Homo sapiens: one gene and its partners. The protein of the gene in region 1 interacts with the protein of each later gene in a pairwise test. Each region holds a gene or a part of one and is shown in the gene's direction. Other genes may lie near its edges.

Evidence for each region.
Region 2: the proteins of TFG (region 1) and TBX19 interact in binary tests that used the Homo sapiens proteins (3 or more experiments, as listed by UniProt).
Region 3: the proteins of TFG (region 1) and SPG21 interact in binary tests that used the Homo sapiens proteins (3 or more experiments, as listed by UniProt).
Region 4: the proteins of TFG (region 1) and INTS11 interact in binary tests that used the Homo sapiens proteins (3 or more experiments, as listed by UniProt).
Region 5: the proteins of TFG (region 1) and SPMIP9 interact in binary tests that used the Homo sapiens proteins (3 or more experiments, as listed by UniProt).
Region 6: the proteins of TFG (region 1) and CFTR interact in binary tests that used the Homo sapiens proteins (3 or more experiments, as listed by UniProt).
Region 7: the proteins of TFG (region 1) and MAPK1IP1L interact in binary tests that used the Homo sapiens proteins (3 or more experiments, as listed by UniProt).

The regions. Positions count from the first base shown.
Region 1 is NC_000003.12:100,726,494-100,729,993, forward strand, and holds part of TFG (protein TFG), read left to right. Parts: intron 1-2,218; coding exon 2,219-2,365; intron 2,366-3,500. UniProt on the Homo sapiens protein: Plays a role in the normal dynamic function of the endoplasmic reticulum (ER) and its associated microtubules. Required for secretory cargo traffic from the endoplasmic reticulum to the Golgi apparatus.
Region 2 is NC_000001.11:168,304,877-168,308,376, forward strand, and holds part of TBX19 (T-box transcription factor TBX19), read left to right. Parts: intron 1-131; coding exon 132-320; intron 321-3,500. UniProt on the Homo sapiens protein: Transcriptional regulator involved in developmental processes. Can activate POMC gene expression and repress the alpha glycoprotein subunit and thyroid-stimulating hormone beta promoters.
Region 3 is NC_000015.10:64,972,915-64,976,414, reverse strand, and holds part of SPG21 (maspardin), read left to right. Parts: intron 1-1,667; coding exon 1,668-1,813; intron 1,814-3,500. UniProt on the Homo sapiens protein: May play a role as a negative regulatory factor in CD4-dependent T-cell activation.
Region 4 is NC_000001.11:1,314,661-1,318,160, reverse strand, and holds part of INTS11 (integrator complex subunit 11), read left to right. Parts: intron 1-2,542; coding exon 2,543-2,641; intron 2,642-2,722; coding exon 2,723-2,757; intron 2,758-3,198; coding exon 3,199-3,337; intron 3,338-3,500.
Region 5 is NC_000002.12:88,523,294-88,527,448, forward strand, and holds the start of SPMIP9 (protein SPMIP9), read left to right. Parts: upstream 1-1,355; 5' UTR 1,356-1,489; exon of another isoform or gene 1,490-1,513; intron 1,514-2,116; exon of another isoform or gene 2,117-2,206; intron 2,207-2,341; 5' UTR 2,342-2,351; coding exon 2,352-2,378; intron 2,379-3,111; coding exon 3,112-3,204; intron 3,205-4,155. UniProt on the Homo sapiens protein: Microtubule inner protein (MIP) part of the dynein-decorated doublet microtubules (DMTs) in flagella axoneme.
Region 6 is NC_000007.14:117,483,025-117,486,524, forward strand, and holds part of CFTR (cystic fibrosis transmembrane conductance regulator), read left to right. Parts: intron 1-3,500. UniProt on the Homo sapiens protein: Epithelial ion channel that plays an important role in the regulation of epithelial ion and water transport and fluid homeostasis. Mediates the transport of chloride ions across the cell membrane.
Region 7 is NC_000014.9:55,058,147-55,061,646, forward strand, and holds part of MAPK1IP1L (MAPK-interacting and spindle-stabilizing protein-like), read left to right. Parts: intron 1-3,008; exon of another isoform or gene 3,009-3,025; coding exon of another isoform or gene 3,026-3,027; intron 3,028-3,500.

The DNA.
Region 1 (3,500 bases):
CTTAATTAATTTAAACTTAGCTAATTTAAACTTTTAATTGAGTATAATTTGGAGCTTAGTGCTCTTAAACCCACTGAGTAGATAATAACAGATTATAGGCCATACTAGGAATGTAAATGCAAGGTTCTTAAAAGTTCTGGTAAGATGTATCAGTGTGCTCCAAAGACCACCAGGAACACACCTGTAGTTGAATGAAGTTGGGTTTACTGACTTACTGCAGCAAGGGAGAATGAATACCACGGAGAACAATAGGATGTCTTACAAGTATGTTAGAAAAGTATTTTTTTTTGGGCTTGGGTTTGTGTTACCTGATTTTGGATAAGGTTCAAGGAAGTAGAGCTTTGCTCTGCATTGGATGCTCTCAGGAAGTAGAGATGATTCTATGTTTGGGTATCTTATCAAATCTTATCTAGAAGGTGAGAGGAATGAATCTTACTAAATCTTATCTGGAAGGTGAGAGGAATGAATTGAGGCTAAAGCTGCAGTTGGTAAAGTAGTAGCAGTTACTCATATTAGCCAGGATAAAAGGTTGTTTGGTCATTTTTCTGGTGTGGTCAGTGTTCTTGTTTTTGTCTGGAGTTTTGACATGGTTATGGACTGTTGATCTATCACAGATTATAGTCTTGTGTGATGTTGGTGTTCTTTGAAATATTTATATTCAACGGGAGAACACCACAGCCTACCTGTGAGTGCCAGGCCAGCTTCCAGCAACACTAAGGCCTGTCTTACTGTACCAGACCAGTTTCTGGCTGCTAGGAGCTGTTTTTCTCATCAAATATTGGAGAAAAAACAGTAATACCAAGTGAAAACCAATAATTGATGTAGGTAGGAGATTGTATTGAACTTCATAGCTATGCAGGGAGTATGTGAATTACTGTGAGTTTTCTTCTAAAAGCTTATAATTGGTGGTTTGATTTTGAAACATGTTTAACAAAGAATCGCCCTGAACTTTTATTTTCACGTAGATGTCCTTTTCTAATTAGGTGCTTCAGGAGTTTGTATGTATGTATACTGGCAATGTGCAAAGCATTTTAGTTTAATTTTTGAACGCCTGTCTTGGGGTTTGCAATCAGAGCCTTGTGTCACTTTCTTTTTAAAAATAACCTGAGTGGTGACAGTGTTTGTTGCTGAATGAAGGATTTCATTTTTTTCAGTCAACTGAAAATCATTTGGACAAAATGAATAATAAGTGAAGTAATGTTGCTTTCATTAAAAAATCACAACTAGAGATTACCGAGTAATCTCTGGCATTTTGTGGCTTATATACTGTTTCTGGAAGTAACTGCTTTGAAGGACAGTCATGATGTAGATAAGTTCTGCATATATTTTTAAATTTATATTTATTTTTTAAAATTTTTTGAGACAAGGTCTCCCTCTGTCATCCAGGCTGGAGTGCAGTGGAGTGATCTCAGCCAACTGGACTTCCCCTCCCGGGATCAAGCAATCCTCCCACCCCAGCCTCCTGAGTAGCTGGGACTGCAGGCATGTGCTGCCACACTTGGCTAATTTTTTAAGGTTTTTGTAGAGATGAAGTCTCACTGTATTGCTCAGGTTTTTCTTGAACTCCTGGGCTCAAGCAGTTCTCCCTCCTTGGCTTCCCAAAGTGGTGGGATTACAGGTGTGAGCCACCATGCCTGGCCCTGCATATATTTTTTTAACGATTTCTTTTAAGATCAGCTATTTTAGTTAGCTGTTTTTTTTCAAGACAAAGTTATGCAAGAGGGATAACAGACCTATCAGTCATGTTATATCTTTAAACATGTATAGAGTAAGGTATTTTTGTATTATTTTAAGAATAGCGTGAAATAAAATGAGCTTTTTAAGTTATATAATTTTTATTAAATTTAATAATTTCTATTAAATTTAATAAATATTTAAGAACAGCATGAAATAAAGTGAGCTTTTGAAGTTATGATTTTTATTAAATTTAATCATTTCTATTAAAAAGTAGAGCTCGGATTTTCCTACCAAACCTTTTTACCAGTAAGGTCATAGGCTATAGGTATGGCATCAAGAAAGACTGATAATTCTGCTTTTTTTCCAAAATAAGTTATTAGCCATAGAGAATTCTTTTTTTTTAAAAAAAAAGTTACTCCATTACATTGATATCTTGTTTTTGTTTTTTTAAAGGAATTGTATTTATTTTTCCTTGTTGCATATTATTAGTATACTTATTCATGAACTTCTAATTTTAAGCAAATAAATGTTTTTATTTCAGTTAATGGCCAGCCAAGACCCCTTGAATCAAGTCAGGTGAAATATCTCCGTCGAGAACTGATAGAACTTCGAAATAAAGTGAATCGTTTATTGGATAGCTTGGAACCACCTGGAGAACCAGGACCTTCCACCAATATTCCTGAAAATGGTAAACCCTGAATCCATTGTATTCTGACTTATTGTTCTTACGTCTTTTTGGAGGTTTTAAAAAACTCTTTTTAAGTAGGAGAAGGATGGCATCCCCAATGTCACTCTTGTTTCTTCCTCTGCCTCTCTACTAGTATTTATGTCTGTGTTCCTAAACTTTGCTGTTCATCAGAATTACTAGGAGGTTTCATTATACCAATTTCTGGATCTCATCATAGACCTACTGGAGCGTAGCACCTGGAAATCCCATTTTTAAAGTGTTTTTTGGGTGATTCTTTCGCAACTAGTCTTAGACTTTTGGATTTGTTACACAGGTCAGTTTTCAAATCCTTTTGACACATGAACCCTTTTTAGTATAATAGATAAGTAATGAACCTTGGGAATTGAAAATCATTTCATGAATAATTACATAGTGTTGGAAGTATTTTCAACTAAAAATCACTTAGATTAGTAATGTTCATTAAAAATGGTATGTTGTAAATTTGAAACACAGTTTTTAATAATAATTAAAGAAAAACTAATTTTTTCCCCATTGTATAATGACATGTACTGTTTGTGTTAAGATAAAGCAAAATGTGTCAACATTTGGAACTGACATAATTTTGGGACCGAATGTATTTTAAAATGTGGACTGAACTTTAAGTATGTGTTAATGACTTGAAAGTACAGTTAAAAAACTGCTTTCTTCTTTTAAGATTCTTAGATGTTGCATTTAAAGAAAACTCTTATTATTATTTTTTTCTTTTTACAAATTCTTTGTTTGCTTATAATTTTCATAGTTTAAAACTGTCCATATTGTGAAATAGTAATTTAAAAAAAGTCTAGACTGGATGACTGCATATAAAGGGCTTAACATGAGATAATTTTTGTGGATAAATGGTATGTATTCTATTTTTGGCCACTAAATATTTTGGAAGTTTTTGTTTTCTATTTTTATTTTAGTTACAGTTTAAATAAAGATGTATTTTCCATCATTTCTCTCTTCCTGTCTTCTAATAGTCATATGGAATTATGTTAATGATAGATGTTTAATAAATATTTGGTGATTGATTATTCCTAGTTGCACTTCTATTTCAGAACATAATGGAGATTTGCTGAATACTATAATGAGATCCTCTTGGTCACTTTATGATGAA
Region 2 (3,500 bases), on another chromosome or scaffold:
CTGGCACCATCACACAGGCTGGCATCAGTGTCATTTACAAGAATTGTAGCTGTGTAAAGTAGCTGGTCACCTGATTTTTGGTGTGGGAGTTCACAGACTCAGTCTTGGTGTATTCCTCTTGTCTATTTTAGTGGGAGGCTGGATCTTTTCCAATCCAGATGGAGTGTGCACAGCAGGAAACTCCAATTACCAGTATGCCGCTCCTCTGCCTCTGCCTGCTCCCCACACCCACCATGGCTGTGAGCACTATTCGGGTCTCCGAGGACACCGGCAGGCTCCCTACCCTTCTGCGTACATGCACAGAAACCATTCTCCCTCAGGTCTGTGACTCTGCTGATTAAACCCTTGGGGTATGGGCTGGGGTGGGGGCAGTCAGGAGAAATGGATAAACAGCTAGGAAAAGGAGTAGCTAAAGATGGAACCCCGTCATCTAATATACATCTATGATATGATTGTTTTTGTGTTTTATTTTATTGTTATTTTATGTACAAATATTTGATTAACTAGGTATAACAATCTTAGTTTTTTTTAAAAAAATTATTTCATAAAACCCCCAGTCTCCTGGTTTCTAATGAGCGTGAAAGGCCAGGACACTGATATTCTGAGCAGTTCAGGCAGATCTCTAAAAGCCATGTCAAGTTGTGTGGGTCTGAAACACTCAGCTCATCACCTTCGCATGGCTCTTTTCTATAGTTGCATTCATGGCTCAGTTCAGGGAATACTGGGTCTAGCATTAGGGAATTATTAGGAAGGTCTCTGGGAAGCTGGATCCCTATATGTTCAGGCCTTAGTCTGATTCAGTTGGAGACATGCAAACCCAACCTTAGTATTTTAAAATAATTTTTGCTGTCTGTTTGTTTTAAGTTAGCAGTATTGTTTGTGTGCTTTTTTCTCATTGACTATTGCCTTTTCCACCTTTGCCTTATGTAGGCCCAGACCTTGCCTGATTATTAGATTTGTAGAAAGAAGGGAGAAATGAAAACAATGGTTACTTTTTCATTAAATTATTCATGCAACAAATATTTATTGAGGATCGACTATATGCCAGGCTCTGTTTCAAGCACAGGAATGAAATGGACAAATGCCCTGCCCTTACGGAGATTCTATACTAATATGAAAAGATTGACAATAAAACAAGTAAAGTTCATGGCATGGGAGACAGTGGAGAGTATTTGGATTCCAGCCTCCTTCCTTCCTCAGTGACACCCTGAGCTCTGCATTTGTAGAGGGTCCTCCTGGTCACCAGCTACCTGTCCCTGTGTCCCTTAGCCTGCTATTCTTGGCAACCTCAACAGTTGCTGCCAGGTGGGGAGATTATGTAGCTTACCAATAGCAGAAACTGAGCAGTGGCTCACTCTACTTCCTCATTCTTTCCTGCGGTCAGCATCAAATCACATCTTCTGAGCACCTACTGTGTACCGTGTTCTTCTAGGCAGTGGGATAGGAAAGTGATTAAGACATAGTTTCAGGGCCGGGAGCGGTGGTTCACGCCTGTAATCCCAGCACTTTGGGAGGCTGAGGCGGGCGGATCACAAGATCAGGAGTTCGAGAGTAGCCTGGCCAACATGGCGAAACCCCGTCTCTACTAAAAATACAAAAACTAGCCAGGCGTGGTCGTTGGCGCCTGTAATCCCAGCTACTTGGGAGGCTGAGGCAGGAGAATTGCTTGAATCCGGGAGGCAGAGGCTGCAGTGAGCCAAGATTGTGCCACTGCACTCTAGCCTGGGCAACAAGAGCAAGACGCCATCTCAAAAAAAAAAAAAAAAAAAAAAGATATAGCTTCTTCCCTGGAGGAGCTCGGGGTTACACAAATACGTAAATAATGAATCCTAATGTAATGCAGAAACATCACCTGGGAACTTGTTAGAAATGTAGACTTTCAGGCTCTACTCCTGAGTCAGGGTCTGCATTTTAACAAGATCACCAGGGGATTCATAAGCGCTCTAGAATTTGAGAAACAGTCTATAAAACACATAAGTCAGGGTGCCATGTGAATGAAGGAAAAAGAGCAGCTAGATATGCCTGGTGGAGGAGCAAAGGCTGCCCAGAGGGGTTAACATTTAAATGGAGCCTTGAAAGATGAATAGAAAAGGACAGAGTGGGAGTGGGCAGGGGTAAAAGGTGGAGGATGACATGTGCCAAAGGCAGAGGTGCAGGGCATTCCAGGTAGAGAGAGTGGGCTGAGCAAAGATACAGAAAGGGGAAAGACCCTAGGTTGTCTGGGAACAGCTTTGGAGCAGAGTGTAGGGGGAGTGGGGACAGATGGAAGATGTAAGAGTTAGGGCTGGAGAGCTTGGAAGTGCCAGATCGTAAAAAGAAGAGACATGGCCAGGTGTCTTAGTCCCCTTTGTGGCGCTATAACAAAATACTTGAGATTGGGTAATTTATAAGCAATAGACCTTTATTTTCTCATAGTCCTGGAGGCTGGGGAGTTTAAGATTAAGGTGCCAGCATATGGTAAGGGTTTTTTGGCTGTATCATAACATTGCGAAAGGCATCACATGGATGGTGGGGGAAAGAGGGGGAGAGGGCAGGAGGCTAAACCCATCCTTTTATCAGAAACCCATTCCTGCAATACTGACATTAGCCTATTCCTGAGGGTAGAGCCCCCATGGCCTAGTCACCTCTTAAAGGCCCCACCTCTCAACACTCTTGCATTGGGAATTAAGTTCCCAACACATGAACCTTGGGGGACACATTCAAACCATAGCACCAGAGATAGACGTTGGAATCTTCCTTCTCTCTCTCCCTTCTCCCCCTTTTCCCTTCCTTCCTCCCTCCCTCTGCCTTCTTCCTCTCTCTTATTTGTATACTATTTATGCAAATAGAGATTCAAAGAAATGGAAGACATTCTTCCCCCACCCCCATAAAAACTGTATATATTCAAGGTGTACAACATGACGTTTTGATATACATATGCATAGTGAAGTGATTACTGCTGTCAAGCAAATTAACATGTCCATCTCCTCACATAGTTACTTTTTTTCATGATGAGAGCACCTGAAATCTATTCTCTTAGCAAATTTCCAGTACACAGTACAATATTATTAACTATAGTCTTCAGATTGTAAGTTAGATCTCTAGACTTATTCATCCTACACAAGTGCAACTTTATATCCTTTGACCAATATCTCATTTCCCCAGCTTCCCACCCCTGGTAACCACTGTTGTACTCTCAGCTTCTATGTATTCAACTTTCTTAGAGTCCACATATAAGTGAGATCATATTATGTTCTTCTTTTTGTAAAAAGGTATGTTTTTTTCTTAATTTTTTTTTTTTTTAATTGTAGAGATGGTGTCTCTCTGTGTTGCCCAGAGAGGTCTCAAATTCCTGGGCTCAAGGGATTCCCCTGCCTTGGACTCCCAAAGTGCCAGGATTACAGGTGTGGGCACCATGCCGGGCCAAAAGGCACTGTGCTTGAGATATTTAAACCTACTCAGGGATGGCCGAGAAGAATAAGTTCCTGGACCTCAGAAATCTCATCTGGGGCACTGGTGGC
Region 3 (3,500 bases), on another chromosome or scaffold:
CTCACTCTGTCACCCAGGCTGGAGTGCAGTGGCGCGATCTCGGCTCACCGCAACCTCCACCTCCCGGATTCAAGTGATTCTCCTGCCTCAGTCTCCAAAATAGCTGGGATTACAGGCGTGTGCCACCATGCCCGGCTAGTTTTTGTATTTTTAGTAAAGATGGGGTTTCGCCAGGTTGGCCAGGCTGCTCTCAAACTCCTGACCTCAAGTGATCCGCCCGCCTCAGCCTCCCTAAGTGCTGGGATTACAGGCGTGAGCCACCGTGCCGAGCCCTCTTTTATTTTTTAATAATAGCTTTATTGCAACATAATTCATATACCATATAATTTACCCTTTTAAGTATACAGTTCCATGTTTTTCAGTATACTCCCAGGTATGTGCAACCATCACTGCAGTCAATGTTTTATAATTTTTTTAATGCCAAAAACCTCATATTCATTAGCAGTCGGTCCTCATCTTCCCCCCTACTAGCCCTGCAACCTAATTTATTTTTATCTCTATGGATTTGCCTATTCTAGATATTTTACATAAGTGGAATCGTATCATATGTGGTCTTTTTGACTGGCTTTTTTTATTTAGCATTGTGAGTTTAAGGTTCATTCATGTTGAAGCCGGAATCAATACTTCGTTTCTCTTTACAGTTAAATCATATTTTTATAAATATGCCATATCTTGTTTAACGATTCATCAGCTGATGCACATTTGGGTTGTTTTTACCCTTTGGATATCATGAATAATGCTGCCATGAACATTCATGTACAAGTTTTTGTGTTGACATATGTTTTCAGTTCTCTTAGGTATGTGTTTAGGGGTGGAATTACTGAATCACAGTTTTCTTAGACATAAACCACTAAGTGGTTTTGAGTTTTTTCTTTTTTTTTTTTTTTGAGACAGGCTTTCACTTTGTTGCCCAGGCTGGAGTGCGGTGGTGCAATCATGGCTCACTGCAGCCTCAACCTTTTGGGCTCAAGCGATCCTCCCACCTCAACCTCCCAAGTAGCTAGGACTCTAGGCACGTACCACCATGCCTGGCTAATTTTTGTATTTTTAGTATACAGGCCTTTTCCATATTTCCCTAGCTTGGTTTTGTTGGTTTCTTTTTTTCTTTTCTTTTTTTTTTTTTTTTTAAGACGGAGTCTCGCTCTGTTGCCCAGGCTGGAGTGCAGTGGTGCGATCTTGGCTCACTGCAACCTCCGCCTGCCAGGTTCAAGCGATTCTGCTGCCTCAGCCTCCCGAGTAGCTGGGACTACAGGCACGCACCACCATGCCTGGCTAGTTTTTTTGTATTTTTAGTAGAGACGGTTTCACCATGCTGGCTAGGCTGGTCTCGAACTCCTGACCTCGTGATCTGCCTGCCTCGGCCTCCCAAAGTGCTGGGATTACAGGTGTGAGCCACCGTGCCTGGACTGGTTTTGTTTTCTAATGCAATCTGTGAATGATATTTTTTTTAATTATATAACTTGGATGCCAAGTTGTATTATCTTGATGGACTGTATAAATTGCATTTAAATACAATATTTTCTAAATTTCTAGCTGCTGTAAATATTTTAGTCTATTGGCTAGTGATAACATATTCTGTGGTTAGTGATAATTGAAGCAACTTTTTAATACTCAGGTTCAAGATTGATCAGTATTTCAGAATCTGCCTTATATTTGTTTATAATTAGGTTCATCTTTTTGGCGCTTCTTTGGGAGGCTTTTTGGCCCAGAAATTTGCTGAATACACTCACAAATCTCCTAGAGTCCATTCCCTAATCCTCTGCAATTCCTTCAGTGACACCTCTATCTTCAACCAAACTTGGACTGCAAACAGGTAAGAACAAAATTACTTTTTTTGTTCAGTGAAATTTTGAAAATGTTGGCTTTTGAGTGTTTGGTACATTAGGAAGGGAAGACTTATATCTACTTCTATATTCTGCAACTTCCTTGGCTTTTTTTTTGAGACAGAGTCTTGCTCTGTCACCCAGGCTGAAGTGCAGTGGTGCAATCACAGCTTACTGCAGCCTTTATTTCCCAGGCTCAAGCGATCCTCCTACCTCAGCCTCCCAAGTAGCTGGAACTACAGGCAGGCATGCATGGCACCACACCTGGTTAATTTCTGTATATTTTTGTACAGATGAGGTTTTGCCATGTTGTCCCATGCTGGTCTCTAACTCCCGGGCTCAAGCCATCTGCCCACCTTGGCCTCCCAAAGTTCTGGGATTACAGGCATGAGCCACTGTGCCCGGCTCTTTCTTGGCTTTTAAAATTAGAAACAATTACCTTTGCAAAAGGAAAGAATTGAATGAACTCTAAATTCAGCTTTTTTTATTACCTTAAATTTTTAAATTTTGTTTAATATTCATTAATATACTTTTGCTGTTTTTATTCAGTATTTCTATGTAACTAATACCATGTTCTGTTTATCCCACTTATTATTATGTGTAAACAGTTCCGTGTATTGACTGACATAGTTTTATTAGGCATTTGGCTTTTCCCAATTCTTCATCACATTCTACAGTAAATCTTTGTACAAATTACTGGGTTTTTTCCCTTTCCAATTTATTTCCTTGAGATATGTTCTCCAAATGGAAAGAATAGAGCATTTGGTCTGTCAACAGATGTTCTGCACATCATGACCCTTGATATTAGTCTGTTCTTCCAAAAGATAGAAATGGTGGAAATGAGGCTGGGTGCGGTGGCTCACACCTGTAATCCCAGCACTTTGGGAGGCCGAGGCGGCCGGATCACCTGAGGTCGGGAGTTCGAGACCAGCCTGACCAACGTGGAGAAACCCTGTCTACTAAAAATACAAAATTAGCTGGGCAAGGTGGCACATGCCTATAATCCCAGCTACTCAGGAGGCTGAGGCAGGAGAATCACTTGAACCCAGGATGCGGAGGTTGTGGTGAGCCGAGATCACGCCATTGCACTCCAGCCTAGGCAACAGGAGCGAAACTCCATCTCAAAAAAAAAACAAACCAAAAACAAAATGGTGGAAATGCTTTGGGTGCAGCCAGTGGGGTACTTGTTTCCTAGGAGCCATCCTTTCATTGATTTTATCATTTTAAGTAATTGGTAGGTATCTATGATGCCATACAGCTGGCTTACTGTGCACTTCTTTCATTGCTGGCAAGGCGAGGCTCTAGCCTTAAAATAAAGCCCAGTGGCCAGGTGTGATGGCTCATGCCGTACTCCCAACACTTTGGGAGGCCAAGACAGGAGGATCACTTCAGGCCAAGAGTTTGAAACCAGCCTGAGCAACATAGTGAGACCCCATCTCTACAAATAACAATAATAATAAATTAGCCAGGTATCATGGTATGCACCTGCAGTCCTAGCTACTCAGGAGGCTGAGGCAGGAGGATCGCTTGAGCCCAAGAGTTCAAGGCTGCAGTGAGCCACAACTGTGCCTCTGTACTCCAGGCTGGGTGACAGAGCAAGACCCTACTTCAAAAAAAAAGCCCAGTGAGTAAACACATCTGTATGATCAGTGTTTTCAAATAATGTATAGGGAAATA
Region 4 (3,500 bases), on another chromosome or scaffold:
CGGTGGCTCACGCCTGTAATCCCAGCACTTTGGGAGGCCGAGACAGGCGGATCACGAGGTCAGGAGATCGAGACCATCCTGGCTAACACGGTGAAACCCTGTCTCTACTAAACAAAATACAAAAAAATTAGCTGGGCGTGGTGCGGGCGCCTGCAGTCCCAGCTACTCGGGAGGCTGAAAGGCAGGAGAATGGCGTGAACCTGGGAGGCGGAGCTTGCAGTGAGCCAAGATCCCACCACTGCACTCCAGCCTGGGAGACAGAGCGAGACGCGAGACTCCGGCTCAAAAAAAAAAAATTTATTTGCCTGCAAATGGATTTACTTTATCCTCGTTCTTAAAGGACTTTTTTTCCCTTAGGTGTGTAAGATTTTAGGTTGACAGTATTTTGTCTCTGCACTTTGCAAACAACGTTCTGTCTCTGGGCATGGGCAGCCGTAGGGTCTGAGCAGGAGCCTTGGTTTTTGGTGCTTGTGCTCTGATGGGCTGACATGTATCCTCAGCCTGTTTAGAGTTTGAGGCCTCTTGGATCTGTGGCTTGAGGCCTTCATCATGTTTCTTCCAGTGTTGTTTCTGCCCCGTTCCTGCTCCTCCAGGGACCCCGAGAGCCTGACGTTCAACCTCTTGAAACTCCGTCATCTGTTTGTCTTTCCTGTTTCCTGATGGATATTCCCTCTGGTGTCTTTCAGTTCATGGATTCTCTTCTGGTTATGTGTCATATGGTGTTAAATTCATCTGTTGAATTCTTTTTTTTTTTCTTTTTTTTTTGAGATGGAGTTTCGCTCTCATTGCCCAGGCTGTAGTGCAGTGGTGCGATCTCAGCTCACCTTGAACCTCCGCCTTCTGGGTTCAAGCGATTCTCCTGCCTCAGCCTCCCGAGTAGCTGGGATTACAGGCGTGTGCCACCACACCCAGTTAATTTTGTATTTTTTTTTAGTAGAGACGGGGGTTTCACCATGTTGGTCAGGCTGGTCTTGAACTCCTGATCTCAGGTGATCCACCCGCCTTGGTCTCCCAGAGTGCTGGGATTACAAGAGTGAGCCACTGCGCCTGGCCAAAATTTTGTTTTTAAATTAGCCTGGCGTGGTGGGTGCGTGCCTATAGTCCCAGCTATTTGGGAGGCGGAGGTGGAGGCGGGAGGACGCTTGAGCCCAGGAGTTTGAGTGAGCCATGATTGCGCCACTGCAGCCTGGGTGACAGCCCCACCCTGTCTCTCAATTTTATTTATTTATTTTTTTTTGAGACACAGTCTCGCTCTGTCGCCCAGGCTGGAGTGCAGTGGCGCGATCTCGGCTTACTGCAACCTCCGCCTCCCGGGTTCAAGCAGTTCTCCTGCCTCAGCCTCCCGAGTAGCTGGGATTACAGGCGCACACCACCACATCCGGCTAATTTTGTATTTTTAGTAGAGACGGGCTTTTTCCGTGTTGGTCAGGCTGGTCTTGAATTCCCAACCTCAGGTGATCCACCCGCCTCAGCCTCCCAAAGTGCTGGGATTACAGGCATGAGCCACCGCACCCGGCAAGTTTTAAATGAATAAATTAAATTTAAAAGAAGTCTAGTTTTTTGCCAATTTTTGTTTTTGACACTCTCGCTCTTGTTGCCCAGGCTGGAGTGCAATGGCACAATCTCAGCTCACTGCAATCTCCGCCTCCCGGGTTCAAGTAATTCTGCCTTAGCCTACTGAGTAGCTGGGATTACAAGCACCCACCACCATGCCCAGCTAACTTTTGTATTTTTAGTAGAGACAGGGTTTCACCGTGTCGGCCAGGATGGTCTTGAACTCCTGACTTCAGATGATCTGCCCACCTTGGTCTCCCCAAGTGCTGGGATTAAAGGTGTGAGCCACTGTGCCCAGCCCAGTATTTTTTTGTTTGTTTTTACCGAGATGGAGTCCCGCCCCATTGCCCAGGCTAGAGTGCAGTGGCGTGATCTCAGTACACTGCAACCTCCACTTCCCAGGTTCAAGCGATTCTCCTGCCTCAGCCTCCTGAGCAGTTGGGATTACAGGCACGCACTTCCACACCTGGCTTACTTTTGTATTTTTAGTAGAGACGGGGTTTCACCATGTTGGCCAGGCTGGTCTCCAATTCCTGACCCCAAGGGATCCACCTTAGGCCTGGCCGCCAACATTCTGAACCTTGTCTTTTCTCTGTCATGTATTCAAAGTCCACGCTGGAAACTCCAATTTCAGGTCCCTTCAGTTTTTTGTCCGTTGTCTTTCGTTCTTTGTCCACGTTGCCCGTCCCTTGTGAACTGGATGCTGTGTGTGAGCAACAGGGACTGAAAAGCTCAGTGCAGTGCCCTCGCTCCCCGCCCCGCCTCCCTCCCTGCCCCCGCCCCCCTCACTCCCTGCCCCTGCCTCCCTCGCTGCCCGCCTCCCTCCCTCCCTCCCCGCCCCCACCTCCCTCGCTCCCGCCCCCGCCCCCTCGCTCCCCTTCCCCCACGCTCCCCACCCCCGCCTCCCGCGCTTCCCGTCCCCCGCCTCCCTCACTCCCCGCCCCTCTGCTGTGAGGACACAGCCTGAGCGCAGCCCTGTCCTCCACAGGTAGATGATGAGCTGGAGATCAAGGCCTACTATGCAGGCCACGTGCTGGGGGCAGCCATGTTCCAGATTAAAGTGGGCTCAGAGTCTGTGGTCTACACGGTCAGTGGAAGGGCTTGAGGCTTGGGAGGGGCTGCTGGGGTGGGAGGCACCCTCCTCATGGCATCCTTGATCGTTCACCAGGGTGATTATAACATGACCCCAGACCGACACTTAGGGTAAGTAGGCTGAGGTGTCTTTTTGTCCCGTGGGCCCCCCTGGAGCTCAGGACCCTTGCAGGTGTCAGGGTGCCAGCCCTTGAGTGGCCAGCCTGGCAGTGTCTCCCATGTCCTGTGCGGCCTGGAGAGCCCCCTTCGTTCTGGGCCCAAATGCGCGAAGGCACAGGGTCCAGGCAGGGGCCTCTGTCCCTCCTTCTCTCTCTTCCCAAGTCTCTGGGTGGGTGCCTCTGTCTCGCTCTTCCGAAGTGTCTGGGTGGGTGCCTCTGTCTCTCCTCTCTCTTCCCAAGTGTGCTGCCCACAGCATTTTACCAGCTGGCTCTTTCCAGCCAGAGTGACCTAGGAAGGCGGCTGGGCGTGGTACTGGGGTCCAGCTTGTCACACCCAGCCCTGCAACCGTGGGGACAGTGCATCGTGGCTCACACCCCCACCCCCGTGTTCCAGAGCTGCCTGGATTGACAAGTGCCGCCCCAACCTGCTCATCACAGAGTCCACGTACGCCACGACCATCCGTGACTCCAAGCGCTGCCGGGAGCGAGACTTCCTGAAGAAAGTCCACGAGACCGTGGAGCGTGGTGGGAAGGTAGCTGCAGCAGGGGTGGGGACATGGGCCCTCGGCCATGCTGGGCTGGTCTTTCTGGCAGGCTTGGCTGCCCTTGGCATGGGTCAGGGTCTCAGGGTGGGGGGTACTGCATTTTCAGGCAGGGAGGGAAGAAGATTTGCTCAACATTGAGGAGGAAAACTCA
Region 5 (4,155 bases), on another chromosome or scaffold:
TTATATATATAATATATGTAACATATATGTTTAATATTATATATAAAATTAAATATACATATTTGTATATAATTACATAAAATATATAAAATACAAATATATATACAATTTCATATATATAACAAAGTTTATCATTTTAGTCACTTTTAAGTGAATAATTCAGTGGCATTAAGTACATTCACAATGGGCAACCATCACCACCATCCATTCCCAGAACTTTTTTTAATATTCTGAAACAGAAACTTCATATCCATTAAACAGTAACTCCCCATTCCTCTCCTCAGTCTCTGGCAACTATCATTCTACTTTCTGTCTCTATGAATTGTACTTCTCTAGGTACCTCGCAGAAGTGGAATCATGCAGCATTTTTCTTTTTGTGACCGGCTTATTTTGCTTTATTTTGCTTAGCATAATGTCCTCAAGGTTTATCCATGCTGTAGCACGTGTCAGAATTGCCTTCCCTTTTTTTTTTTTTTTTTAATTTTGTTTTGAGACAGAGTGTCGCTCTGTTACACAGGCTGGAGTGCAGTGGTGTGATCTCGGCTCACTGCAACCTCTGCCTCCCGAGTTGAAGCAATTCTTCTGCCTCAGCCTCCCGAGTAGCTGGGACTACAGGCGTGCACCACCACACCCGGCTAATTTTTGTATTTTTAGTAGAGACGGGGTTTCACCATGTTAGTCAGGCTGGTCTGGAACTTCTGACCTCAGGCAAACTGCCTGCCTCGGCCTCCCAAGTTGCTGGGATTACCAGCGTGAGCCACCGTGCCTGGCCTCCCTTTTAAGGCTGAATAATATTCCATTGTACGTAGATACCAAATCCATTCATCTCTGAAGGACATGTAAGTTGTTTCTACCTTTTGACTATTGTGAACCATGCTGTTGTGAACGTTGGTGTACAGGTATCCATTTGAGCCCTTGCTTTCAATTCTTTTTTATTTATAACTAGAAGTGGAATTTCTCCACATCCTCATCAACGCTTGTTTCTGTATTTTTTTTTTATTGTAGCCACACACTATGAATGTCAAAAAGTGACATTTTGACAATTTTGAGCCAGGCTTTCAGGCAGCAGAGGCCTGGGTGGCAGTCTGTGGTGTGAAGTGGATTTAGTCACACACAGTCTGATGTTGTAAACCACATGGGCTCTATTTACCTTCCTCTCCTAGGACTAGGAAGATTCTGTAGAGTATCGGAAAGCATTGGTTCATGTGCTGCCAGGATTCATGTTGGCTCTGGTGAGCCAGGGACAGGGAACTGACCTGCAGGCAGCCCAAGCAGCCACCTACTCACCTCACAATGACAGGGACCCTCATCATACAGGTCAGGGCTCAACTCAAAGACAGGCGTGGCAGTGGGACACAGCAACAGGACTCTCCATGTGGCAAGGGCACCTGGAGGTGGGAGGGCAGGAGCGTCGTCTTGCCCTGGCAGAAGAAGCGGTAGGCTCTGTCTGCGTGGCAGCTGGTCCCCAGCCCTAGGAGAGAAGCTGTCTGTGAGCAAAAGGGAGGGGATACAGGTGTTGGTTGAGGTCTGGGCACCACCCTGCTGGGCCACAGTCTGCTGAAGAGAGTGGGGCTTAGGGGAGGGTTCCCTGGGAATGCAGTGGAGTACCCCTTAAGGATCTAGGGGCCACGCACACAAGGAGTCTGTGCAGCGAGGCCCTCGCTAGGACTTCAGGGCTGGAAGGGAGGGGTCAGTGTTAGGCCTACAAACTACTGTTGTTCAACTGGGAATGCAGAGTCTTGCAACTTTCTTCACCTTGGATACTCCCCTGTGAATCAAGGTGGCTCTGAGTCCTAGGCCTGGGCCTTCCTCTATCCAGGGGAAGTGCTGAGGCCTGGTTCAGAGGAACATGTGAGCTGGAGCCAGTTCATACTGGCTCACAAGAGCCCATCCTGTGCATATCTGTGCAACTCAGTGCCAATGACATTATGTTGATAGCCTGAAATGAGCCATGATAGGAGCATTTACACCACAGAAATTGGCAGATGCTATAAACCCAGGGCCTATTTTCCCTGAAAACATGGTTGTTAAACATTTACCAGCACTTCACTTGCCCTAGGATCAGCTATACCTCTCAAACAGTAAACCTGATCAGTAAATGTGATCTTCTAAACAGCCCTCATTCCTCCTGAGTCCTGCTCCAGCCCCTTTGTCCCAGGGACCCTGGTATCACCACCAACCCCTTGATGATGGAGTGACATGCAGGGTAGGAGCCCAGGGAAGATGGGGAGGAGTGGGCTAAGAAAGCTGGGGCAGCCATGCTTGGTTGGCACAGCTTGAAGATAGTGGCTACTTTCCTTGTCTGTGGCAGAGCAGGGCTAAACAACTTGTCTGTGTCTAGGTCGTTTGCCATGGCAGGTGTGAAATACCCGGGACAGGTGAGTGATGTGGGTTTCTGTCCCCTGTGACGGTCTCAGGGTTGGGTAGCCTCAGCAAGGCCCTGGAAGGGCCAGGCTCTTTCTAGAAGCTCATCTTTCTGTAATGATAGTTTTGGGTTTTGTGGGTTTTTTTTTTTTTTGGTACAAGAAGAAGAAGAGAACTGAGTTTTCTTCTTTATAATTTTCTGGGGGTTCAGTTATTTACTCAGCATGCACTTATTAGGCACCCACAGTGTGCCAGGCCCTGTCCTGGGCTTTGGGACTGCAGAGATGTCTAAGTACACTAAACCTGCTCTAGTGTACTTCATTAAATCCATCACAGTACACCCTGCAAGTGCTGTTGTGGAGGGTTGTAAGGAACAAGGAAAGGGTTTAACTCTTGGGAGGTGGAGAATAAAAGGGTGGGAGAGATGTTTTGGGGAAGTGACATTTAGTCTGGGTCTTGGAGGATAGGTAGGAGTTTGCTAGTCTGTGAGGAGGGCAACTTGCATTTCCATCAGGAGATAGGAAAGAGCACATGCCAGGCCCATGCAAGTGGGAGGAAGTAAGGCTGGAGTAGAGAAGGCAGGAAGGTGGCGGGATGGTAAAAATGGGTCACAGCCAGATCATTTGGGCTCTGAATGTCAGGCCCCAAAGTCGGCCTTTGTCCTACAAACAGCAAGAAGCCATTGAATGGCTTTAAGTGGAGGAGTGACGAGGGAATCTCTTGTTTTATATTCTCCTTGTGCTTTAGGACCCTGTGGATTTAGACATATACCAAAGCTCCCACATGGTCGACTATCAGCCCTACAGGAAGCACAAATACTCCAGGGTCACGCCGCAAGAGGTAGGAAGGCACGCAAGTCCTGTCATTCAATCAACTGCCTACTGAAATCCTCTCTGTTGCTTCATTTGTATTACAAATGTGGACATTTGGGCCCTTGTTAGAACAATATCCAATGCCAGGAGATATGACTTAGAGATCTTTTCTGTGCATGTGCATGTATGTGTGTGTATTTTTTTTTTCTTTTTGAGAAGGAGTCTTACTCTGTCACCCAGGCTGGAGTGCAGTGGCGCGATCTCGGCTCACTACAACCTCTGCCGCCTGCCTGGATTCAAGCGATTCTCCTGCCTCAACTTCCTGAGTAGCTGGGATTACAGGTGCCTGCCACTGCGTCAGCTAATTTTTGTATTTTTAGTAGAGATGGGATTTCACCATCCTGGCCAGGCTGATCTTGAACTCCTGACCTCGTGATCCACCTGCCTCGGCCTCCCAAAGTGCTAGAATTACAGGCGTGAGCCACCGTGGCCGGCCATGTGTGTATGTTTTCAAATGTACATCAAATACGTCATGCATACAAAAAATTGTAAATAATACACATTTAGAGTTAAAATTACACTGATAAACACCGATGTAACCATTACAGACCGCTTAAAACATGGCACATTAACATTAGCAGTACCTTGTAGCCTCTTGGTAACCCGCAAACTTACCCCTCCTCCCATCTCCAGAAGTGGTTAATCATTCCCTTGTAGGCCAGGCACAGTGGCTCACACCTGGAATCCCAGCATTTTGGGAGGCAGAGGCGGCCAGGAGTTGAGACCAGGGGTTTGAGACCAGGAGTTTGAGGCCAGCAGTTCGAGACCAGCCTGGCTGACATGGCGAAATCCCGTCTCTATAAAAAATACAAAAATTAGCCTGGCTTGTTGGTGCACGCTTGTATTTTCAGCTGCGTGGAAGGCTGAGACATGAGAATTGCTTGAACCTGGGAGGTGGGGCGAGACTCTATCCCCCCCA
Region 6 (3,500 bases), on another chromosome or scaffold:
AGGATCTAAGGTGGAAATTCAGCAAAGAATCACATAGTCTAAGTCTCGAGTTTAACAGTAAGATAATTTGAGATACTTTTGTAATTATTAAACACAAAGTAATGAGAGATTTTAAAACAAACAAATACACCTGAATTTATATATCAGAATAGGTATGGTGGTTCAAAATAGCTATCTAATAAAAACCACACTCCTATTCTAAACATTTGCCTTTGATCAAAATAATTTTGGGTCTCTTATTATGAAATTGCCTTTCTAAATAATACATAAATTTCTTCTCATAAGTATATATTAGCCACATTATTTTATTGTTATTGTTTTATATTCATAGCTTGCTTTAGATTAAAAATTATATTACCCAGACTGGTCTCTTGGACTTGCTTCCAAGTGACTTTTGACTGTATCACAAAATCAAATTCACTCTGAAAATATAAAGATTTTTCATCATAATTTCCTTTGTTAACAGCCAAGTGCTACCTAATTTTAGGTGTTTTCATTAAAAAAAAATGCATTGCAAACTTTAAAGACAATTCTTTTGTTTGTTTGTTTTTAAAAGACAGAGTCTCACTCTGTTGCCCAGGCTAGAGTGCAGTGACACAATCATAACTCACTGCAACCTCCACCTCCTGGGCTCAAGTGAGCCTTCCATCTTGCCTCACGAGTAGCTGGGTCTTCAGGTGTACAGGTGTGTACCACCATGCCTGGCTAACTTTTTTTTTTTTTAAGTTATATAGAGACAGTATCTCACTATGTTGCCCAGGCTGCTCTTGGAGCTCCTGGCCTCAAGTTATCCTCCCACTCAGTCTCCCAAAGTGCTGGGATTACAGGCGTAAGCCACCTCACCCTGTCAGCCTAAAGACAGTGCTTAATGAAGAGAAATATAAGTGCTTTGAGCAATGGAAGTATAATTAAAATTATACTATGAAAGATTTATAAAGATGACCATTTTGAATGGGACCACACTTATTTGGTTATATAAATTATGATACACTATTAAAAATTCATCATGATGATTTTGTATTTACATTTTATTTACATGTTTGCAATTTGTGAGGAAAGCTAAAATTATGGCTAAGCCATAAATATTTTTGCAGTTTGTTGAGGGTGTTTGTAAAAGTGTTGCCAAGGAAGACCAGTTGGCTACCCAAACAAGGGTTTAGTCTAGGTCTGATCAATACATACACATTATCTCAGGTTTGTCTATCAGAAAAACCTTAGGTTATCCAAATCAAAATAAAATAGATGCATAAAACAAAGGCCAATATGTGTTGAACAATTATATTGTGATATACAACTGCCAAGCATTCCCGATTACCATGACTCCATTTAGTCAGTCCATGGGCAAATGCCATCAATGAGGACAGCCCAGGGTTTCCATATTCTCTCTTGGCTTTACATCCTATAGGAATTGGAGGGGCCCACCTCTGGGATAGGAGCCCTTCTGTCTTGAACAATGTTGTCTGAACACTAACAAATGTTGACTTTCTACACCAGTCCCTCAATAGTCTTTTCTATTTATCCTTTTGCTGACCATGTTTTGTTATTACACAGTTGAGATTTTTCAGCTGGGAATCTGTGTTAATTTTGTATTAATTTTGATTAGCTTAACTCTCAGAGTTCTAAAAGTACCTCCTGTACCTGATATATGACAAAAATTATAATTACATTTATTTATATATAAAATATCTTTGTATATGTAAAATATCTTTGTATATATAATTATATAATTGTTTCTTTTAATTTTGCAAATTTTAAAAAGTTCTCCTTTGTTTTGAAGTTTATTCCTATAGTTTTTTATATGCTAGTTAAATTATTAATCACTTGATTCAAGTAATATTCTTATATACTTATAAGGAATAGTGTAGTTTTAATATTTAATTCCTTGCTAAAGAGAGAAGTGGAATCTATTTTTCTTAGCTACTTCATCAATATTTTATGTTTGATGTGACAGTCAAAATATCCCTCAGAGCTAACTGTTACACTAGGGAAATCACGGTTTTCCAGTTTTCCATTTATGTGTTATGGGAGGGAGTGGAACTTAGTGTAATAATATTCAATACATAAATGTTAACACTTGTTTAAAGGTCCTTGAGTGAGTACTGCTATAAAATGCATTATTATTGCTAGTGTCATTTCACAAGAGCCTATAATTTCAGTGTGATAGAGCTACAATATAAGTATAGTATTGCAAAACCATCAGGAAGGGTGTTAACTATTTAGCATGCAGTTATGTGTTGGTTGTCAAAACGTTAAAAACATCTCTGACTCAGCAGCAATTTTGGCAATTTTGATCCTGAGGCATCTGTGTAGGGCATCTTCCTGGAGAAAAACCTCTGAGATGCAATGAGGTCAAAAGGGGAAAACAGACTATGATAAAGATCAAGTTGTTTGGAGATCTTGTAGAAAGATTAATTTACAAATATGTCAAGTGCATTATCATGGAGGAAAACATTGCTATTTCTGTTGGTTCTCTTCAGAGCTCTAGAATCAATTTACCACATAGTTGTTTCAGTGTGAAATTAGCATTACAGAGTGGCTTTACGGCTTTACTGTAGGGCATTGTGTCAGCAAAGAGCTTAGGCTTCTTTTAGCAAGAAGCTTGTAAAAATTTAATTTACTCTTAGATTGCTTGATGTAGAGAATTACATTCCTACAGAGCTCTGAAAAATCTTTTTTCAGAGTTTTTCACAGCTGTATTCAAGTTGCAAGGCTTGTCAACTTTGCTATTTTTCTGTGCAGCTCTGTTAACTTATTATTATCTTTTGACATAAATTATGATTCCAAATTGTAAAGCTCTGGATGTCAGGGCCTTTTCTAATTTGTTTAGTATGATATTCAGACCATTTCAAGACTCTTCCGTGGAACAATTTAATAAAGATTTTTTTGTGATGTTAATGAGTTCATGGTGATCAACCCTAGAGACCTGTGTCTATTGTAGATCGATGACATTCAACAGTCCTGCAGTGCTGGCATCATTTTGATAAAAAGGGGTCAAAGCAAGTGGGACTGTGGGCAGATTTTTAATGCTTAGAACAATTATTCCATCGAAGTTTTCTTGTGTCCCTTCTGCCTTAGCCTTTGTAGGATAGCATGCTTGCTAATTTCTTGCTCATGGGGTAAGGAAATGAAGATTTTTGCTAGGTCCGTAGGATTATTAGGACTACTCAGGCCTGAAGCTATGCCTGGATATAGCCAGAAAACTCTCCCATAGCTTGCTCCAAGGAGCTGAGATACAGCAGTACTTCCTTTGTAGGTCATGATTCTGGGTAACCTGGAAGATGACCTCATTCATATTCTGTATTCTATGTGAGACGTTAAGAAGGTAGAGGTGGCCAAGAAGGAAATTGTTGCTGCCTTTATGGAACAAATTATCTGAAACCCAGCTTTCTCGAGGGCTTCATTGAAGTACTCAACTGGGGCACTTAACCCAGTCTAAGGCTGGTCAAGGAAGGCTTGCTGGGGGAAGTGTCTTTTGTATTCACACCTAAAGGAGGTTATTC
Region 7 (3,500 bases), on another chromosome or scaffold:
ACACATCCATTCATGTGCATCTTTGGGATATGGGAGGAAACTGGAGTACTTGGAGAAGACCCATAAAGATGGGAGAATGAGCCAGCTTCACACAGACAGTGACCTCAGCTGAGACTTTTTGTTTTTTCTTCTCATCAACATTATAACAAAACAAAGTTGAATGAAACGTCTTTCGAGGACCTGCTATAGACTAAAATTTTAAAACCCTGTCCCATATATGAACGAACAATTAGAAAATACAGTAGAAGAAAAGAGCCTATTTACAACCACAGGGAAAAGTTTAACAGAAATCCCTTAAAAGAAATGTATATAGGAGATCTGATCAAGAAAATAAACTACATGAAAAGGACAGGAACTAAACAGTCCTCTGTGTCTGCATTTGCGGGTAGAAAATATTCAGGGAGCCGGGTGCGGTGGCTCATGCCTGTAATCCCAGCACTTTGGGAGGCTGAGGCGGGCGGATCACGTGAGGCCAGGAGTTCAAGAGCAGCCTGGCCAACGTGGTGAAACCCTGTCTCTATTAAAAATACAAAAAATTAGCCGGGCATGGCGGCGCTTGCCTATAATCCCAGTTACTCAGGAGGCTGAGGCAGGAGAATCTCTTGAACCCAGGAGATGGAGGTTGCAGTGAGCTGACATCATGCTATTGCACTCTAGCCTGGGCAACAGAGTGAGACCCTGTCTCAAAAAAAAAAAAATACTTGGGGGAAACAATAAAAATAACCATAGAAAATATAAGTTAATATAATTATATAGTATTCACACTTTTAAGTATTATAAATAATATAGAGATGATTTATACGGGAAGATGTGCATAGGTTATATGCAAATACTACACCATTTTATATCAGGTACTTGAGCATCCTGGGATTTGAGTATCTATGGGGGTCCTAGAACCAATCTCCCTCAGGTACCGAGGGACTATACTATACCTTGTTCTTGAACGAGATGATTTGACATTTTAAATAGATGTTCCCCTAGATTAATCTGTAAATATAATACATTTCCAACCAGAATGCTAACACATTAATTTTTTTTTTTAACGATCTGGAAAAAATAAAAATACATAGGAAAATCTGAAAAAAAAAAAAAAAAAAAAGACAGTAGGGTGACTCACATTAATGTTTATTTAAAATATATTGTAAAGCTTCTGTAATTAAAATGGAATGGTACAGTTGCAGACCAGTAGAAAAGAATAAAGTCAGCTGGGCACAGTATCTCACGCCTGTAATCCCAAGACTTTGGGAGGCCGAGGCAGGCAGATCACTTGAGCTCCGGAGTTCAAGACCAGCCTGGGCAACATGGTGAAACTCCATCTCTACAAAAAAACTAGCTGGGCAGGATCGATTGAGCCCAGAAGGTCGAGTCTGCAGTGAGCTTATGATGGTGCCACTGCACTCTGGCCAGGGAACAAAGCAAGACTGTTTCAAAAAGAAAAGAATAAAGTCCACAATATCTGTGGGAAATGAAGGAGGCTCTATAGCCTGCTTGTTAAGAGCCTAAGTTCTGGAGTCATACTGGGTTTGAACTGCTTCTCTCCTTGTCATTAGCTCTGGGACCTTAAACAAGTTAACTTGCCAAGCTTCCTCTTCTCCAGCTGTAAACTGGGGGTGAAAATAAAATTTGTATCTGGGTTCTGGAGCTACCAAGTGAGGTGGTGCACAGTACACCACCATGTTCCATGTTTCATGGTAAATATTGGATAGATGCTAGTTATAAATGGCAGCAGTATAGTGTAGTAAAGGTAGCTTGTCCAATTAGCTGAGAAAAGATAGATAGTTGATAATTATTGTTTGGAAGAATTTAAAGGTTTTAAACAAGAAGTTAAACCATAAAAATACTATATGAAAGCAAGGCAGAGTAGGGAAGGCCTTTGTAAATATATCACAAAATCCAGAAGCCACGTATAGGAAAACATTGATAGATTTGATGACATGAAATTTAAAACTTTTGTATAACCAAAATATGCCCTTTAAGAGATCTACAGATAAAAGGAATTTTGGAGAAATTTTTTTTTTTTTTTTTTTTTTTTTTTTTTTTTTTGATATGGAGTAGCCCTCCGTTGCCCAGGCTGGAGTGCAGTGGCGCAATCTCGGCTCACTGCAAGCTCCGCCTCCCAGGTTCATGCCATTCTCCTGCCTCAGCCTCCCAAGTAGCTGGGACTACAGGCACCCGCCACCACACTGGGCTAATCGTTTTTTTGTATTTTTAGTAGAGACGGGGTTTCACCGTGTTAGCCAGGATGGTCTCGATCTCTTGACCTCGTGATCCGCCTGCCTCGGCCTCCCAAAGTGCTGGGATTATAGGCGTGAGCCACTGCACCCGGCCAAAAAATTTTAATCTCATATATGAAAGCTAGTCTGCTTAGTATCTTACAAAGCAGTGAGAGAAAAAGATGTGCTACTGAGTAATAAAATGATCAAAGGCAAAGAGTACCTACAGTCTTTTATTTATATAAAGTCAAAGAACAAGCAAAATTAAGTCAAAAATTGACTGCCATGAGGCAAGGTAGTTGATTGGAAAAGAGCATGAGTAAACTTTCTGGAGTGAGAAATGTTCTGTATCTTGGGGTGGTTATAGGGGCGTATACAATTATCAGAGCTTGTTAATCTGAACACTTAAGATCTCTGCATTTTGTTGAGTGCTAATTACACTTCAATTTAAAAATTGGTAAAAGTACTCCAGGACATCAATAAATTTAAATTTGGGAGTACACACAGTGGCTCATGGCTATAATCCCAATACTTTGGGAGGCTGAGGCAGGAGGGTCCTTTGATCCCAGGAGTTTGAGACCGGGTCTGGGCAACATAGTGAGACACCTGTCTCTGCAATAAATTTTTAAAATTTTAAGAAATTTGCTGGGCATGATGGCACACACCTGTAGTACCGGCTATTAGGGAGACTGAGGCAAGAAGATGACTTGAGCCCAGGAGGTCAAGATTGCAGTGAGCTGTGATCTCTCTCGCCACTGCACTCCAGCCTGGGTGACAGAATGAGACCCTGTCTCCAAAAAAAAGACGAGGAAATGTAAGTTAAAATAAGACGCTAATTTTTAATATCTATTGTCATTATAAACAATAAATTTAATAATATCCAGTGGTAAAAGGAGTTAGAGAAATGAGTGTAAATTGGCATGGACTTTTCAAATGGATTTTAGATAAATTTATCTGTTGACTCTAAATTCCATGTCCAGTGCTTTTTCCTGGTGTTAGATTCTCACACACAAACAAAGAAGTGTTGAGAGATGTTCACTGTATCATACTTAAAACAACTTATACTGCTACAAAAAGAAGGTAAATTAAATTGCAAATCATTTTTGTATGATGTGCAGCCATTAAAAGGGATGAAGTTAATAGAGCTGTATGAACTATTATGGAAAACTTTCCTATGTAAAGAAAAACACATTACATAAATAAGATTCCGCTTAAGTAATAATAATGTATGCATAGAAAGTTCCTTAAGGAATATTTAAGAAATGGTGAACACTGATTTTGAAATTT